2 separate regions of the Homo sapiens genome follow, and region 2 is linked to region 1. The links come from fine-mapping of genetic effects on gene expression. A gene starts in region 1. The other region holds a variant in brackets. All regions are shown on one strand. Distances are from middle to middle.

What was found. PIP is the estimated chance that this variant, and not a neighbour inherited with it, causes the effect.
Region 2: its variant is fine-mapped to the expression of LINC02527 in macrophages (Alasoo 2018, PIP 0.95).

Annotation. Positions count from the first base shown.
Region 1 is chr6:111,905,889-111,914,480 of GRCh38, reverse strand. LINC02527 (long intergenic non-protein coding RNA 2527) reads left to right here and starts at 5,084. Exons shown (of 3, transcript NR_149099.1): 1 at 5,084-5,555. RefSeq lists an enhancer at 5,687-6,373.
Region 2 is chr6:111,870,923-111,879,514 of GRCh38, reverse strand. FYN (FYN proto-oncogene, Src family tyrosine kinase) reads left to right here and starts at 6,063. Exons shown (of 14, transcript NM_002037.5): 1 at 6,063-6,547. LOC102724646 (a long non-coding RNA gene) reads right to left here and starts at 6,063. Exons shown (of 3, transcript NR_168402.1): 1 at 5,825-6,063; 2 at 3,303-3,464; 3 at 2,205-3,021. RefSeq lists silencers at 5,934-6,023, 6,144-6,393, 6,544-6,943 and an enhancer at 5,992-6,491. The variant C/A (reference allele first, on the strand shown) is at 4,490.

The DNA of each region.
Region 1 (8,592 bases):
TCTCAAACTTTAGCGTGCATACAAATTACCTACCAGGCATCTTAAATGCAAATTCTGATTCAGCAGGTCTAGGGGTGAGGCCCGAGGATTTGCATTTCTAGCAAGCTTCCAGGTGATGCTGATGCTGCTGGTCTAAGGACCACACTCTGATTTGATTAGGCAGGAACTAGAAGTGTATATATGTGTATATATATATATATATATATATATATATATAAGCATATATAGAAATATATGTGTATATACACATATATAGAGATAAATATATATATTTTTATGAGCACATTTTTAAAAATATATATTATATATAAAATATATATTATATATAATAAAAATGTGCTTATAAAAATATATATTTTACATATAATATATAAATATGTTATATATTATATATAAATATGTTATATATAAATATGTTATATATTATATATAATATGTTATATATAAATACGTTATATATAATATGTTATATATAAATACGTTATATATAATATGTTATATATAAATACGTTATATATAATATATAAATATATATTATATATAATATATTATATTAAATATATATTATATATAATATATTATATATAAATATGTTTATATATTATATATAATGTGCTTATTATTATATATAATTATATTATATATAAAACTATATAAAAATGTGCTTATAAGAAATATATATTATATATAAATATATATAATATATATTATATTTTTTATAAGCACATTTTTTTAAATGCTAAAATCACTAATCATTAGGGAAATGCAAATCAAAACCACAATTAAATATTGTCCATGAGGATGGCTACCATCGGAAACAAAAGACAAAAAAAACAGAAAATAAGCAGTGGCTAGGATGTAAAGAAATTGGAACCTCTGTGAACTATTTGTGGGGGTGTAAAATGGTGAAGCCAATATGGAAAACAGTATGGCACCATTCCTCAAAAAGTTAAGCATAGAATTACCATAAGATTCAGCATTTCACTTATGGGTATATACCCCCCCAAAAAATTGACAGCAGGGACTAGAAGAGGTATTTGTACACCCATGTTCATAGGAACATTAGTCACAGTAGCCAAAAGGTGGAACCAACCCAAGTAACCATTGATAGATGAATGGATAAAAATGTGGTATATACATAAAATGTGTATGTATATATATACATATATACATAGCGCCTTTAAAAGGAAGGAAATTATGACACATGATACAACATGGATGAACCTTGAAAACACTATGCTAAGTGAAATAAACCAGTCACACACACAAAAAAATACTGTGTGATTCCATTTCTATGAGGTACCTAGTGTAGTCAAATTCAGAGACCAGAAAATAGAATGGTGGGTGCCGGGGGCTGTCGATGGGGGAAAATAGGGAGCTCTTGTCTCATGGGTACAGAGTTTCAGTTTGTGATGATGAAAAAGTTCTAGAAATGAATAATGGTGATGATTGCATAACAATGTGAAGGTGCTTAAAGCCACCTAATTGTACACTTGACAATGGTCAATATGATAACTTTTATTATATACATTTTACCACAATTTTTTAAATTAAGGAACATAGCTGAAGACTGTAATAAATAGATAGATATATCCAGTGTTGGTAAAGTTACAAGGCATGTGATACTCTTATATTATCAGTGAAGGAGGAGTGGAAGAGAGATAAATTGGTACAAGTTTCTGAAGGATAATGTGACAATATAATTTTGCCTACCTTTTAACCTATAAAGTTTATTATTGGGTAAATATGATATGTGCAAATATTAGGCTAAAGAGCAATCCATAACAGTGCTATTTATAAGAACAAAAACATAAAAACTTCTTAAATGTCCAAAACTATGGGATTGGGTAAGTATGGCACATTAGCTATGAAATGGAATAAATGCATTCTTTTAAAATGATATTTAGAAGAATATTCAATGATCTGGAAGTGTATGCACAATTTAGTGGGTGGAAAAAGCAGGTTACCAAATGTAGGTACAACATACATGTAAAAAACAGTAAAAAATATTAACAGTGAGTATGTAGGGAAGTGTATTCTAAGTTATTTTCTTCCTTTTGCCTATCTATATTTTCTATCTTTTTTGGGTAAGGAGCTTTTATTACTTTGGGATCAAGAAGTAAGTAACTTTTCGGCCAGGCGGGGTGGCTCACACCTGTAATCCTAGCACTTTGGGAGGCCAAGGCAGGCAGATCACTTGAGGTCAGGAGTTGTAAACCAGCCTGGCCAACATGATGAAACCCCATCTCTACTAAAAATACAAAAAAAAAATTAGCTGGACATCGTGGCAGGTGCCTGTAATCTCAGCTACTTGGGAGGCTGAGGCAGGAGAATTGCTTGAACCAGGAAGTCAGAGGTTGCAGTGAGCCAAGATGGAGCCACTGCACTCCAGCCTGGGTGACAGAGTGAGACTCTAACAACAACAACAACAAAAGTAAGTAACTTTTAAAAATAATTTTTTAAGACCCTGGATAAATCTTGGGGCAAAAGGGTCTAATCATTCACTGGTCCATAGTGGGAGATATCCACTTTAAATTATTTAAAATGTTAAAGCAGTGAGAAAACTTAGAGAGGAAACTCTAAGATGCTCTTCCTCTTTAAAATTAGGAAACAAAGTATACAGACTTATAAGTACGCTGAAAAAGGCGGCTATATTATTTCAGATTCAGTTTGGCTGGGAGTAACAGTACTTTGGACGCACAGGTTTTTATTCACTTAAGCAAAATTTCTAGAGTTCTGCAGCTAGGACTGAAGCGGTGTCCCGCGGTATCTCAGGGAGCAGATTTTTGTCTTGTTGCTCTACTCTCCTCAGCATTTAGCATTTAGCTCATGAGCCAGCACAGCTGTTGGAGCTCCAGCCATCACATCTGAGAACTGGAAGTAGAAAGAGAGAACACCCACCCTCTCACTTTAAGGACACTTCCTGGAAGCTACTCACAACGTATCTGCTACACGCTAATAACCAGAACTCTGTCACCTAATTGAACAGGAATGGAAAGCAGGTCAGAAAACACAGTCTTTACTGCATGTGAGTCTGCGCTCAGCTAAAAATCAGAGTTTGGTTACTAAGGCAGAAAAGATCTCAGGGTACAGCTTTCTCTCTCCGCAGCTGCCTCACTACATATAGGATTGGCAATAGATTGGAATAGTGTCTCTCCTACACTACACTCGCCCAGCAGAGAAAGGCACATCAGAACTCTTACCCTTTCTGACTATGGAGAGTGGGAAAATCACCACGCTCTTCAATATGGAGTTTATTTAAAAATTCTATTTGCTAAAGTTTTAAATTATAATATATTTATCCAGTGTTACAATGAAAGAGACGCAAACAGGGAGACAATTCTATTTAAAAAAAAAAAAAAACTAAAGGATCCCATCTCCATAAATATCCAGTACAAGCTTTTGTAACCTCTTCTGATAATCACTTTTTACATGATTATGTTCTTCAAGATATATGCACAGCATTATAATCGCTGTGCAATGCTGTTATATTTTTTCACTTCGTGTTATTTAAAATATGCTCTCTGCTCTCTCATATGTCCATATCGTCAATATACCTACCATTTTTCATGCCAAAATATTGAATCAATGTAGCAATTATACCTATGTTACCAATTATAGGACATTTTCATGACTTCCAGTTGGTTTTGTGTTTGTTGTTGTTTTGTCACACAAATAGAATAGCTATAAACGTCCTAGTGCAAATAAGCATTTCTTTCTTCTAAGAACTTCTTTAGAATAAATTGTCAAACATGCGACTATCAGAGCAAGGACCATGGCCAATCTGGTGGCTCCTATGTGAACTATATTCTCTCCAGGAAATTCTCTAATCATCAAGGTATCTACATCATTTAATGATGCTATTTTGTCCTCAGCTCTGCCAAATATAAATTTCTACAACATTTAATGGTTTCTAATTTACTGGGGATATGGTGATATGAACTAAATCACTTGAGTCTGAATATATTTAAATGTTTTTTAAGCAGAACATCATTGATGTTTATTTACTATTTATGTTTTTAATCCCTTTGAGTCATATATCCATTCCTATTTTGCAATCTGACTACAATTAGAAACTGCTGTTGTAAATTTACACCAGTTCCTCTTATCTTCTGAACCCCAAATGTGTATCTTATCATTTTTATTATGAATGATCTTCCTTTCTGTTGCTTTTCTTCCCCCTGCTCCCTCCTTAGGGGTGCTCAAATGAAAGAGAAAAGTTTAAAAAGCAACATTTGTTAGAAGACATAATGATGCACATTTCTGCTCAACTGGGAGTACATTGTCTGCTGGGGCCAAGGTCTGGGAGGTATGTTTCCTATTAGAAGAAGCAGGTTCCTAGGTTCTCTCTGCTGCCCACAGAAATGGCAGGACTTGGAATGCAGGGGCAGCACAGTGTGTACTCAAGACAAAAGACAAGTAAAGGAAGCAAGATACTGTGCCCAGGCCATTCTAAGGGCCTACTGGCAGGCATTTTTCAGACCATATAGGTGGACTCCTAGTTTTCCATGGGATGCATTCCTAAAAAAGCATTTTCATTTGAATGTCTGAAAATCACACATTGGGATACATGTTACGGATTTATGGATTGGGGGAAGGCTGAAAAAACATTGTGAATCCCTAATTATTGGGTCCTTAGATACTGCTTATCTCAGGCCTGAGCCACTCAGTGAACAGAAGAGAGACTATTGAGCCCAACAACTTCTCCTCCTTTGTATTAGGTTGGTGCAAAAATAACTGTAGTTTTTTGCCATTAAAAGTAACAGCCAAAACCACAATTACTTTTGCACCAACCTAATACCCCTTCTCTGATCCATTTACAGGCCCCCTGCAGAAGGTCATGATGCCCTCAGTCTTTACACTTGAACTCTGGGACTCTCTAGTTACCTGGAGAAGAGGTGGCACTGTTTTCTAACATGGAGACAGACACAACACAAACAAACATATAAAAGCTAAAATCTGAAAAAGCAAGTAAATAAGCATGATAATTACCAACTTATGCAATAAAGGATATAGGCAAGGTGACGTCAGAAAGAGTAATTTGGAGGTGGTGCTATTTAAGATAACATCATCAGGGAGGCCCTCCCGGAGACGGGGACATTTGAGCTGAGATGCAAAAGATGGTAGACACACAAAGAGCAGAGAAGGGTATGCCAGGAAGAGGGAGCAAGCCAAGACCCTCCAGCTAGTGGAGAGTTGGGGCCTGCAGGAACTGAAAGGCAGGAGGGCAGAAGGGCAGAGGTGCAGGAGGGCAGAAGGGCAGAGGTGCAAGCAGGGGCCACCTCCTGGATGAGTTTAGAGACCATGGTGAAGCCAAGTTAAAAGACAGACATTATAGAAATATGATTGGACAAAGCAGGATTTAAAATGCTGTTTAAACAATGCTATTTTCTGTTGTGTCTGCTGTATTCTATATTACATTGCATTTAACTATAAAGATATTTTAGAGAGCAGGGGAGTGGAGGAGCCAAGATGGCCGAATAGGAACAGCTCTGGTCTACAGCTCCCAGCGTAAGCGACGCAGAAGACAGGTGATTTCTGCATTTCCATCTGAGGTACTGGGTTCATCTCACTAGGGAGTGCCAGACAGTGGGCGCAGGTCAGTGGGTGCGCGCACCGTGCGCGAGCCGAAGCAGGGCGAGGCATTGCCTCACTTGGGAAGTGCAAGGGGTCAGGGAGTTCCCTTTCCGAGTCAAAGAAAGGGGTGACGGACTCACCTGGAAAATTGGGTCACTCCCACCCGAATATTGCGCTTTTTGGACCGGTTTAAAAAAACGGCGCACCACGAGATTATATCCCGCACCTGGCTCGGAGGGTCCTACGCCCACGGAGTCTCGCTGATTGCTAGCACAGCAGTCTGAGATCAAACTGCAAGGCAGCAGCGAGGCTGGGGGAGGGGCACCCGCCATTGCCCAGGCTTGCTTAGGTAAACAAAGCAGCGGGGAAGCTCGAACTGGGTGGAGCCCACCACAGCTCAAGGAGGCCTGCCTGCCTCTGTAGGCTCCACCTCTGGGGGCAGGGCACAGACAAACAAAAGGACAGCAGTAACCTCTGCAGACTTAAATGTCCCTGTCCGACAGCTTTGAAGAGAGCAGTGGTTCTCCCAGCACGCAGCTGGAGATCTGAGAACGGGCAGACTGCCTCCTCAAGTGGGTCCCTGACCCCTGACCCCCGAGCAGCCTAACTGGGAGGCACCCCCCAGCAGGGGCACACTGACACCTCACACGGCAGGGTATTCCAACAGACCTGCAGCTGAGGGTCCTGTCCGTTAGAAGGAAAACTAACAAACAGAAAGGACATCCACACGAAAAACTCATCTGTACATCACCATCATCAAAGACCAAAAGTAGATAAAACCATGAAGATGGGGAAAAAACAGAACAGAAAAACGGGAAACTCTAAAACGCAGAGCGCTTCTCCTCCTCCAAAGGAAAGCAGTTCCTCACCAGCAACGGAACAAAGCTGGATGGAGAATGACTTTGACGAGCTGAGAGAAGAAGGCTTCAGACGATCAAATTACTCTGAGCTACGGGAGGACATTCAAACCAAAGGCAAAGAAGTTGAAAACTTTGAAAAAAATTTAGAAGAATGTATAACTAGAATAACCAATAAAGAGAAGTGCTTAAAGGAGCTGATGGAGCTGAAAACCAAGGCTCGAGAACTACATGAAGAATGCAGAAGCCTCAGGAGCCGATGCGATCAACTGGAAGAAAGGATATCAGCGATGGAAGATGAAATGAATGAAATGAAGCAAGAAGGGAATTTTAGAGAAAAAAAAAAAAAAGAAATGAGCAAAGGCTCCAAGAAATATGGGACTATGTGAAAAGACCAAATCTACGTCTGATTGGTGTACCTGAAAGTGATAGGGAGAATGGAACCAAGTTGGAAAACACTCTGCAGGATATTATCCAGGAGAACTTCCCCAATCTAGCAAGGCAGGCCAACGTTCAGATTCAGGAAATACAGAGAATGCCACAAAGATACTCCTCAAGAAGAGCAACTCCAAGACACATAATTGTCAGATTCACCAAAGTTGAAATGAAGGAAAAAATGTTAAGGGCAGCCAGAGAGAAAGGTCGGGTTACCCTCAAAGGGAAGCCCATCAGACTAACAGCAGATCTCTCGGCAGAAACCCTACAAGCCAGAAGAGAGTGGGGGCCAATATTCAACATTCTTAAAGAAAAGAATTTTCAACCCAGAATTTCATATCCAGCCAAACTAAGCTTCATAAGTGAAGGAGAAATAAAATACTTTACAGACAAGCAAATGCTGAGAGATTTTGTCACCACCAGGCCTGCCCTAAAAGAGCTCCTGAAGGAAGCGCTAAACATGGAAAGGAACAACCGGTACCAGCCGCTGCAAAATCATGCCAAAATGTAAAGACCATCGAGACTAGGAAGAAACTGCATCAACTAACGAGCAAAATAACCAGCTAACATCATAATGACAGGATCAAATTCACACATAACCATATTAACTTTAAATGTAAATGGACTAAATGCTCCAATTAAAAGACACAGACTGGCAAATTGGATAAAGAGTCAAGACCCATCAGTGTGCTGTATTCAGGAAACCCATCTCACGTGCAGAGACACACATAGGCTCAAAATAAAAGGATGGAGGAAGATCTACCAAGCAAATGGAAAACAAAAAAAGGCAGGGGTTGCAATCCTAGTCTCTGATAAAACAGACTTTAAACCAACAAAGATCAAAAGAGACAAAGAAGGCCATTACATAATGGTAAAGGGATCAATTCAACAAGAAGAGCTAACTATCCTAAATATATATGCACCCAATACAGGAGCACCCAGATTCATAAAGCAAGTCCTGAGTGACCTACAAAGACACTTAGACTCCCACACATTAATAATGGGAGGCTTTAACACACCACTGTCAACATTAGACAGATCAACGAGACAGAAAGTCAACAAGGATACCCAGGAATTGAACTCAGCTCTGCACCAAGCGGACCTAATAGACATCTACAGAACTCTCCACCCAAAATCAACAGAATATACATTTTTTTCAGCACCACACCACACCTATTCCAAAATTGACCACATACTTGGAAGTAAAGCTCTGCTCAGCAAATGCAAAAGAACAGAAATTATAACAAACTATCTCTCAGACCACAGTGCAATCAAACTAGAACTCAGAATTAAGAATCTCACTCAAAACCGCTCAACTACATGGAAACTGAACAACCTGCTCCTGAATGACTACTGCATACATAACGAAATGAAGGCAGAAATAAAGATGTTCTTTGAAACCAATGAGAACAAAGACACAACATACCAGAATCTCTGGGATGCATTCAAAGCAGTGTGTAGAGGGAAATTTATAGCACTAAATGCCCACAAGAGAAAGCAGGAAAGATCCAAAATTGACACCCTAACATCACAATTAAAAGAACTAGAAAAGCAAGAGCAAACACATTCAAAAGTTAGCAGAAGGCAAGAAATAACTAAAATCAGAGCAGAACTGAAGGAAATAGAGACACAAAAAACCCTTCAAAAAATTATTGAATCCAGGAGCTGGTTTTTTGAAAGGATCAACAAAATTGATAGACCGCTAGCAAGACTAATAAAGAAA
Region 2 (8,592 bases), 35 kb after region 1:
ACTGCAGCCTCAACCTCCCAGGCTTAGGTGATCCTCCCACCTCAGCCTCCCATGTAGCTGGGACTACAGGCTCACGCCATCTTGTCTGGCTAATTATGTATTTTTTATAGAGATGGAGGTTCATGATATTGCTCAGGCTGGTCTCGAACTCCCGGGCTCAAGCAATCCCCCTGCCTCATCCTCCAAAAGTGCTGGGATTACAGGTGTGAGCCACGGTGCCCAGTCAGACATAGTAGGTTTTCGATGCTTGCAACCAAGAACCTTGACTGATACAATAATTTCCTCCTCCTTCAGTTCATTTTTTCCCTTGACAACTTGACAGACAGAATATTTGAATTCTTGAAAGTAGCAAGATAAATGTCATAAAGTCCACATTTCACACAGATGTAGATCACTAAACTAATTAGAAAGCTGAGGCATTATCTCTTTTTCTTTAGGACTACAAGAAGCTATGACCAGGAAAATAACTGAATCATTGAGGGCACACTCTAGGAGCTCTATCAGATAAAAACAAAATGAAAAGCATCTGCTAGCCTCACAGTGTCACTCTTGAGGGTCTCCCGTGGAGTGTCAAGTCAGGGTCAGCTCACCTAAAGAAGATCAGGCCTAATCAACCTGTTCCTGCAAACAGGGGAGTCCAAAGGTTTCTGATCCAGTTTTCTGTACTAGTGTGGGGTGTTCTATTGGCTCCACCACCCTGGAGGAGTCTTAAATACCATCACTGCACTGAGTAGAGCTTGGAAATAGCAGACAGTGAGGAGTCAAGAAAGGGCCAGAGTGAAAGGTATGGCTGGTTAGTATGCAGAAGAAAGGGACAGGCCATCTTATGACAGAACAGCCTCCTTTGTTAGGCTCCTATGGGGTCCCTGCAGGAGGTGTGTTGGGAGATAACTCTATGAAATTAGAAGGGTTTCCATCTAGAACCCCAAGGTTGACTAAGACCCATTCTCAGGCACTTGAACTTCACAAGCTAATAATCCAAGCCACCTTTGGGGAGTCGGGCAAAGAATTAAAGAAGCGCATTTTCAGTCAGTGCCATCCCATTCACCCTCCCTGTGGTCTGTTTAGGATATAGGCCTCTCTTCCTCCCCAGCATGCCTGGCTTGCCCAGTACTGACCCTGACATGTTGAGAGCATCCAAAAGAGGTTCAGTGCACCTGGGTTCTAAAACCATGTTCATAATAACTCCTATCTAGTCAGTCCACCCTCCATCTTTTTAAGAGAAAAGGGAACTGGAAAGCCAAATGCCAAGAGGGCTCTGCTGTGGCCTGTCAGGAGGACCAGCTGTCCAGTATGGACACAATTTAACAAGAGAGACAATGGTAGAAAAGTAGGGCCAGAATCTCAACTTCAGAAGAGCCACAGGTATCTTCCTTCCAGAGGCAGGTTTAACATCACCTACGCTCCTTTCTGAGTTCAGGCTGGGGTGTTGTATGGAATGTCCTTCCCACATGAGATTTTTCCAGGACCATCTCCTGCTGGCTCATGGCAAGCTGTGGACCCAAAATGCCCTAAATCCATTGGCTGTGTTCTAAAGATTGTGTATATAAAAATATGTAACTCTTTATGTATGGACTTGATATGAGGCATCAGAAGAAAGAGGTAAACAGTGAACCAGGTATGCCAAGTACAGACAGGTTAGCCCTGGGGCCACTTTAGCAGTGGTGTCCCACTCTAAGAGTGAAGGGGTTTTTTTGCTTGTTTTTTTCATTTTGTTTTGTTTTGAGACAGGGTCTCACTCTGTTACAGCAGTGCAATTAGAGCTCACTGCAGCTTTGACCTCCCAGGCTCAAGCAATCTTCCCATCTCAGCCTCCCAAGTAGATGAGACGGCAGGTGTACACCACCACACCTGGCATTTATTTTTTTTGTAGAGATGGGGTCTTGCTGTGCTGTCCAGGTTGGTCTCAAACTCCTGGGCTCAAGCAGTCCTCTGGCCTCAGCCTCCCAAAGCACGGGGATTACAGGCACGAGCTATCATGCCTAGCCTCAAAGTGAAGTTTTATAAGAATCATTCCTGCAAGTCCCAGAAGACCCACCAGAAACAAGAAGGGTGTCTGTGGGTGGATGGAAGCAGAAGGCCTCCCTCTGGTCCTGGTCTTGATTCCTGAACACTACCCTGGGGCAATATGCCTTCAAAAGGGAGGAAAAACAGCAGACAGGAGGCAGAGGAAGAAAAACGAGAATTAAAGTAGCAAAAAAAGGTACAAGTTTAAAATAAGTTTTTATTGTTTTTTCTAATAACATAATAAATGCCCAATGTAAAAAGTTGAGGAAATTAAGAAAAAGATAAAAAATAAAATAACAATGACCTAAAATATGATTACTTGGAGGAAATGATCATTAAAATTTTTGTGTATGTATTGCTTTCTATGAAAATTTACACATATAAATAAGTTTAAAAATAATGGAAATATATGTGTATTAATACATATATATAAACATACATATGTACACATACAAACACAATACTAATTTATTAGCTCTTCTTAATTTTAATTTGTTGTGAACATCTTTCCACACAAATAAATAAATAAATGGCAATGTTATAATTTTATGGCTATATAGTATTCTATTATAGATATAACATAATTTACACACCAAATCCCTTATCAATGAACTTTTCTCAGTGTTTCACTATTATAAACAATGTTCCAATTATTCCCATGATATGTGCGCTTGTGTTTGTGTATTTGCAAATTTGTTCCATTCTTTCCCAGAAGTAAAATTGCTAAGTCAAATGTATACATTTTTTTAAAAGGCTTTTCACAAATGCTATTAAACTGCCTTCCAGCAATGTTGTACCAATTAAAAATTCCACTAGTAGGGTATGGATATCCATTTTCCTGTTGAACCTCCTATCACATTTACTGGCCATTTTGGGTTTTGTTTCTGTTGCACATATTTTTCAGTTCGAACGTTCATCTTTATTTTCTTGTTGATTTGTAAAAACTCTACATTGAGGGTTTTTACCCTTGCCATATGTGTTGTTGTTGAGTTGACATTTAAGAGAAGATTAAAACTAAAATAAAATAATAAGACAAGAAAATGTTTTAGCTAATAAAAATAAGAAAAAAAAGTTACTTTAAAAGCAAGATATAAGATTCAGATGAGACAAGTTCAAGAAAGCCAGAATAGAAAGAGGAAACTTTAAGGTAAAACAAGTAGAAAAATACAAAATATATAAACAATATCAATAAAATCAAAGAGAAGTTCTAGAACAATGACTACATTCTAATTTGTATAATAGAAGCTACTCATAAGAAAACAAAACTGGTGGTTGTGGAAGACAATATTACTTACCTTGGGTAGGCCAGGGACAGCGTCTCAGATCTTTAATCAAGTTCTTGGTAGAGATTGGCAGAAAAGATCAAAACGGGAATAGTATACAAATCTTTTGCAGTGCTCTATTCACTTGTTCAGACCATTAGCAAATCCTCCTGAGGAGTCCAAATCCATTTAAAGCTACATTTAAGACGGGCAACAGATAAAAAAGTAGGTAAGCAAAGAATTACAAAAAACAGGATGAAGTCTTGATGGGAGCAGGTTAATCTGTCATTTTAATCACATTGTCTCTTTGTCCACTAATTAGATCAAGAAGCTATTACAGTTGCAGACACTAAGAAGTGACTTCTCGTGAAGAAACAGAGAGAGAGGAGGAGAGAGGGAGAGAGAGAGAGAGAGAGAGAGAGAGGACTTATCCCACCTACTCCAGATTTCCAGATTTAGCGTAAGATAGATTGAACTAAACATGAGATTTCAAGGAGATATATAGCCTAAGAGTGTTTTTTTCTTGAGAGCATATGACACTTAGTCTGTCCGGAATAGTTTGAGAACAGTTTTACTATTTTTCCCATTTTACGTATGAGGACACTAAGGTTCAAAAAGGATAAGCGACTTGCTTCATCAAAGCGCTCCCAACAGTGAACTGTGGAGCTGGAATCAGAAACAACTCCAGACCAGTGCTGCCCGATAGAGATATAACTTGAGCCACATAGGTTATTTAAAATTTTCTAGTAGACGCATTTAAAAAATAAAAGAAACAATTTAATTAACTCTAATAATGTTTTATTTAGCACAGTACATTTAGACTATCATTTTAACATGTAATCAATATTAAAATGGGATACTTTACATTCCATTTTTCATGCTTGATCTGAAATATCTAATACATCTTTTACATTTACAGCACATCCTAATTTGCAGTAGCCAAATTTCCAATACTGAAGTACATTTCAAGTACTTAACAGTCATGTGGCTAGTGGCTACCTCCTCGGACAGCCCAATTCTAGAACTATGGTCCTCAAGGTGCTGTCTCCAGATTGGCTGTATCAACATCACCTGGGAACTTGCTAAATGTGCAAATTCTTGGGCACCATCCCAAACCCCCTAAATCAGAACCTCAGGTGGTTAAACACAGCAATTCATGTTTAAGCAAGCCCCTTCAGTTATTTCTGATACATGTCAAAGTTTGAGAACCATTGCTCTAC[C/A]CAACTGCCTCTGCATCCCAATCCAAATAAACCCAGAGCAGCCATTGCGGACTAGCCCTGAGGACGAAGAGCCTCTGCTCTTGAGATAAGCAATTCTTGGCTAAATGAAGCTGGCTTTCTCTTGTATGGAAATATCCTAGTCCTAGCTATGGTTCCATTTCTTGGGATTATGGAATTTCCAGACACAATTTAAACATGGTTTAATTTGTCATTTTGTTTAAGGAAAAGGAAAAAAATCCAGTAACCTCTGTATACTGTCACCTTGAGTTAGTTACTTAACTTTTCTTTTCCTCAGTTTCCTCCTCCATAGGATGCAGATCATTTAATAAATGTTAGCAACTTTTCTTAAAAAGTAGTGTGTACAAAAAGAAAAAAGTCAGCAAAAGGGACAGATTTTTTTAAACTACAGTAAAAACAAGTAGTGGGCCGGAAAGGCAATATTATAGATTTTGAGCACAGAAGCAGAAGCTGATTCACTTATAATTTCTTAGAACATTAGATTTGCTGAGGGGGAAGGTAGGGTTCTTGCCAAAATCATTAAGGAGAGCGATTCTGAGTATGCCTTAAAGCAGAACTTTCAGTAAACAGGAATTACCTATAAAGAAAATCAGGAAGCCAAAGTGTTTCTTTTTATGAAGTTACATCCTGCCATAGAAAAGCTGGATAGGAAATAAAGACCGATGCACTCCCAACTGTATACTAAACCGGCAATTATTTCATCAAGGGAAATATGAGCAAAAGCTCAGATTCAGTGAAGGGGAAAAAAACATGAGAAGTTTGAATGTTATGAGAAACCAAAGACAACCAATGACTACAATTAAACGAGGTTTTTTGGGGGTGGGGCGGGGAATGTACGAACAAATCTCTGTCATTTCAGGTTCCTTAGTCGCCGCTTGGCCCCTCCCCCTATTTCAGTAATACTTCCTCCAGACTTTTGCTAGAAAAAAAATATAAATGAGTGTCCGCAGAAATAGGGGACTGATAAAATGATCCTAATCTCCTTCTCCTCCTCATTGTTATTTGTTGTGCGTTTCCACGTTTCAGGACAGGATTCTACTTTGCTCCGTACTCTTTTCAGTTTGATCAAAGAAAACGCTGCTATCACCGCCCAATTTTCCATTTCATCCTCTCACCCTCAAATGAAAAGACACCAGAAAGGCAAGATAGCCCTGTCTCGAGGCAGTTTCCCATGGTTTTGGGGGAATGGCAGGTGCCAATCTGCAGCAGCAGCTGCAACCTTCCGCAAAGCGGAAACTGCAGTTCACACTCTCCGCTCTTTCTCCCGCCCTACTCCGCCACCTCACAACTCCACACAATCCTTAAAAACACACAGACCTCCTCCTCCAACCTCGCATTTTCTTGCACACCCTGCACCGCACGCACCCTGGGATGCCCGCTGCCACAGTAACGCTCAACCCACTCGGCGGCCCCACCTACTGCCGTCCCGCCCACGCCCCAGGCGCCAATGGTTGCGGCTCGCAGCTCCCAAGGGGCTCTTTGATAGGGCAGCCGGGCCTGTCACTCTCGAGGCGCGCCCCGCCCCCTCCTCGCTCCCCTCCGGAGCTGGAGGGGCAGAGCATCAGCAAGAGTAGCAGCGAGCAGCCGCGCTGGTGGCGGCGGCGCGTCGTTGCAGTTGCGCCATCTGTCAGGAGCGGAGCCGGCGAGGAGGGGGCTGCCGCGGGCGAGGAGGAGGGGTCGCCGCGAGCCGAAGGCCTTCGAGACCCGCCCGCCGCCCGGCGGCGAGAGTAGAGGCGAGGTTGTTGTGCGAGCGGCGCGTCCTCTCCCGCCCGGGCGCGCCGCGCTTCTCCCAGCGCACCGAGGACCGCCCGGGCGCACACAAAGCCGCCGCCCGCGCCGCACCGCCCGGCGGCCGCCGCCCGCGCCAGGGAGGGATTCGGCCGCCGGGCCGGGGACACCCCGGCGCCGCCCCCTCGGTGCTCTCGGAAGGCCCACCGGCTCCCGGGCCCGCCGGGGACCCCCCGGAGCCGCCTCGGCCGCGCCGGAGGAGGGCGGGGAGAGGACCATGTGAGTGGGCTCCGGAGCCTCAGCGCCGCGCAGGTAAGCAGGCGGCGGGGATGCGTCGCGGGAGGCCTCGGGGATGCTGCGGAGAAGCCCGGCCGCCGGCGCCCCCGCGCACGCCGCCCCCGCCGCAGGGCCCGGTGCTGCGGTCCCTTGGCCGCCAGGGCGCTCCGCGGGGCTGCCGGGGAGTCGGTGCTTGGGGTCTTCCCGCGGTTGCACCGGAGGACACCCCTGCGGGGTGCGGCCCCGAGGCAGCGCGGGGATGGGGACCCCATTTCCTCGCCCGCAAGCGGGCGCCGGGTGAAAATGGGAATTGGCTTGGGGGCGAGGCTGGCCCAGACTCCGCCCCCGCCCTCCTTTTGGGGCCCCCCGCGGGGACTGGGGCTGTGTGTGTTGTTTTAATGTCAGGGATGATGTAATCACTTAATAATTGATGCCCCGTGCTGCTTCCCTCCCCACCCAACCCCTGCCCCACTCCTCCACCTCTCGGCCTCCTCCCTCGGCGGCGGTCGCCTTCTCCAACCCATCCTCCTGCCTATTTCTGGCACCTCCCTTGCACTTCCCCCATCCTCCCCTTCACTCTTCCTGTGCCACCACCCACCCACCCTTCCCCTTTCCCCTGTGCTGGAGCCTTCCCTCCTCTTCCTCTGTCCCCCACCCCTCTGCTCCCTCCAGCTCTTTTCTCCTTCCTTTCCGGCTCCCTCGCTGGATTTCCTCTCTACTTCCCTAGATCCATGGCTGTTTTTGTTTGGGCTCCTCCCCTCTGTTATCTCTGCGGCCACAGGCGGAGGGGACTGGGCCAGAAGGAGGCCACCGAGCTTGGGCCCAGCAGAGATGTGCTGGGACTCACTGGGAAGAGGGATAATAAAATCACCCTTCTTGCCCCTCCTTCCCCCAATAAATCACACAGACTCGCCGGGTGTGTGAGTGTGAGTGTGACACAAAGAGCCCTTTCAGTGCATAGAGAGGAGACACACAAAGTACCCTAGGATAGGCACGATGCTTCTTGTCTCTCTTCCCTGGGGCTTCCCTTTCTTTCCCATGAAGCAGTTGATCTCTCTGAGTCTTTCCTGCCACATTTACCAAAAAATAAAAGAACCCCCGGATGCCGGGTGGCAGGTGTCGGCATTTTGCTGTGTTCAGAGACCGGTAGTGTTGACTGGCAGCTGCAGTGTTTCTTAGATTTAAGGGAACAGTTATCCCAGCAGTCTTAAGAGTTGCTTTACTTTTAAGGTAGCCTCCCCATCCCCTCGTTCTTTCCCCTGTCCTTTTGGGAACAAGTACTAAGAGCTGGGGTAGAGTAGATTGGTGTGGGGGTCACAAGAATTTTGTTTCTGAATCAGAATTAAATTGTTATTTGATAAGAGGGAGGCAGCCTGAATGGCTTCTTCTCTCAAGTCTAAGAGGGCACTGTACTGAAGTCTTTTGAAATGAAATCCTGTCTGCCCAGTGATGTTGTTTTACCCTTTTATTGAAGTAAATACCTGGGGACGTGGATAAAACGGTCTAGAGTTAGCATTTGGAAGACCACTGCAGACTGCCTCTTGCCTGCTTCAAGGTAGTCTTGGGACGCCTACTTCCTTTCTCACCACCCAAGCAACTGCAATACTTTCCACCCTATGTACTGTCTTCTTCCCCAGTCCCTGCTCCATGGGTACCCTGTATTCAGATGAAGGGACTCACAGACTTTTGGAGGAAGTGGTTTAACTATCTGAGGCTTTGAGGCCACTTGGCTATGAACTGGGGCTGTAGAGAATCTTGACTGAAGTCTAAACCATTTGATGTTCCCTTTAAGGAAGAAATGTTAATGTAAATCTGGGGGCTTAATGTTCCGTTTTGTAAGCCAGTGACTATTACATGCTTAATCGATATTGTCAAAACTTAAGTTGAACCTGTTCTTTCCTAAAAGTATGGCTCCTCGACTATTTTTATAAGTAACAGAACTGTAGGTTTAGTCTTCAGTAATTTTATTAGAAAAGAGTTATGATTCATTAAATATTTACTTACACACTTTTTAAGAACATTCATCGTGGAACTTTTTACGATAAAAAAAGCAATAGGGTTAATGAGTGTACTGTAAAAAC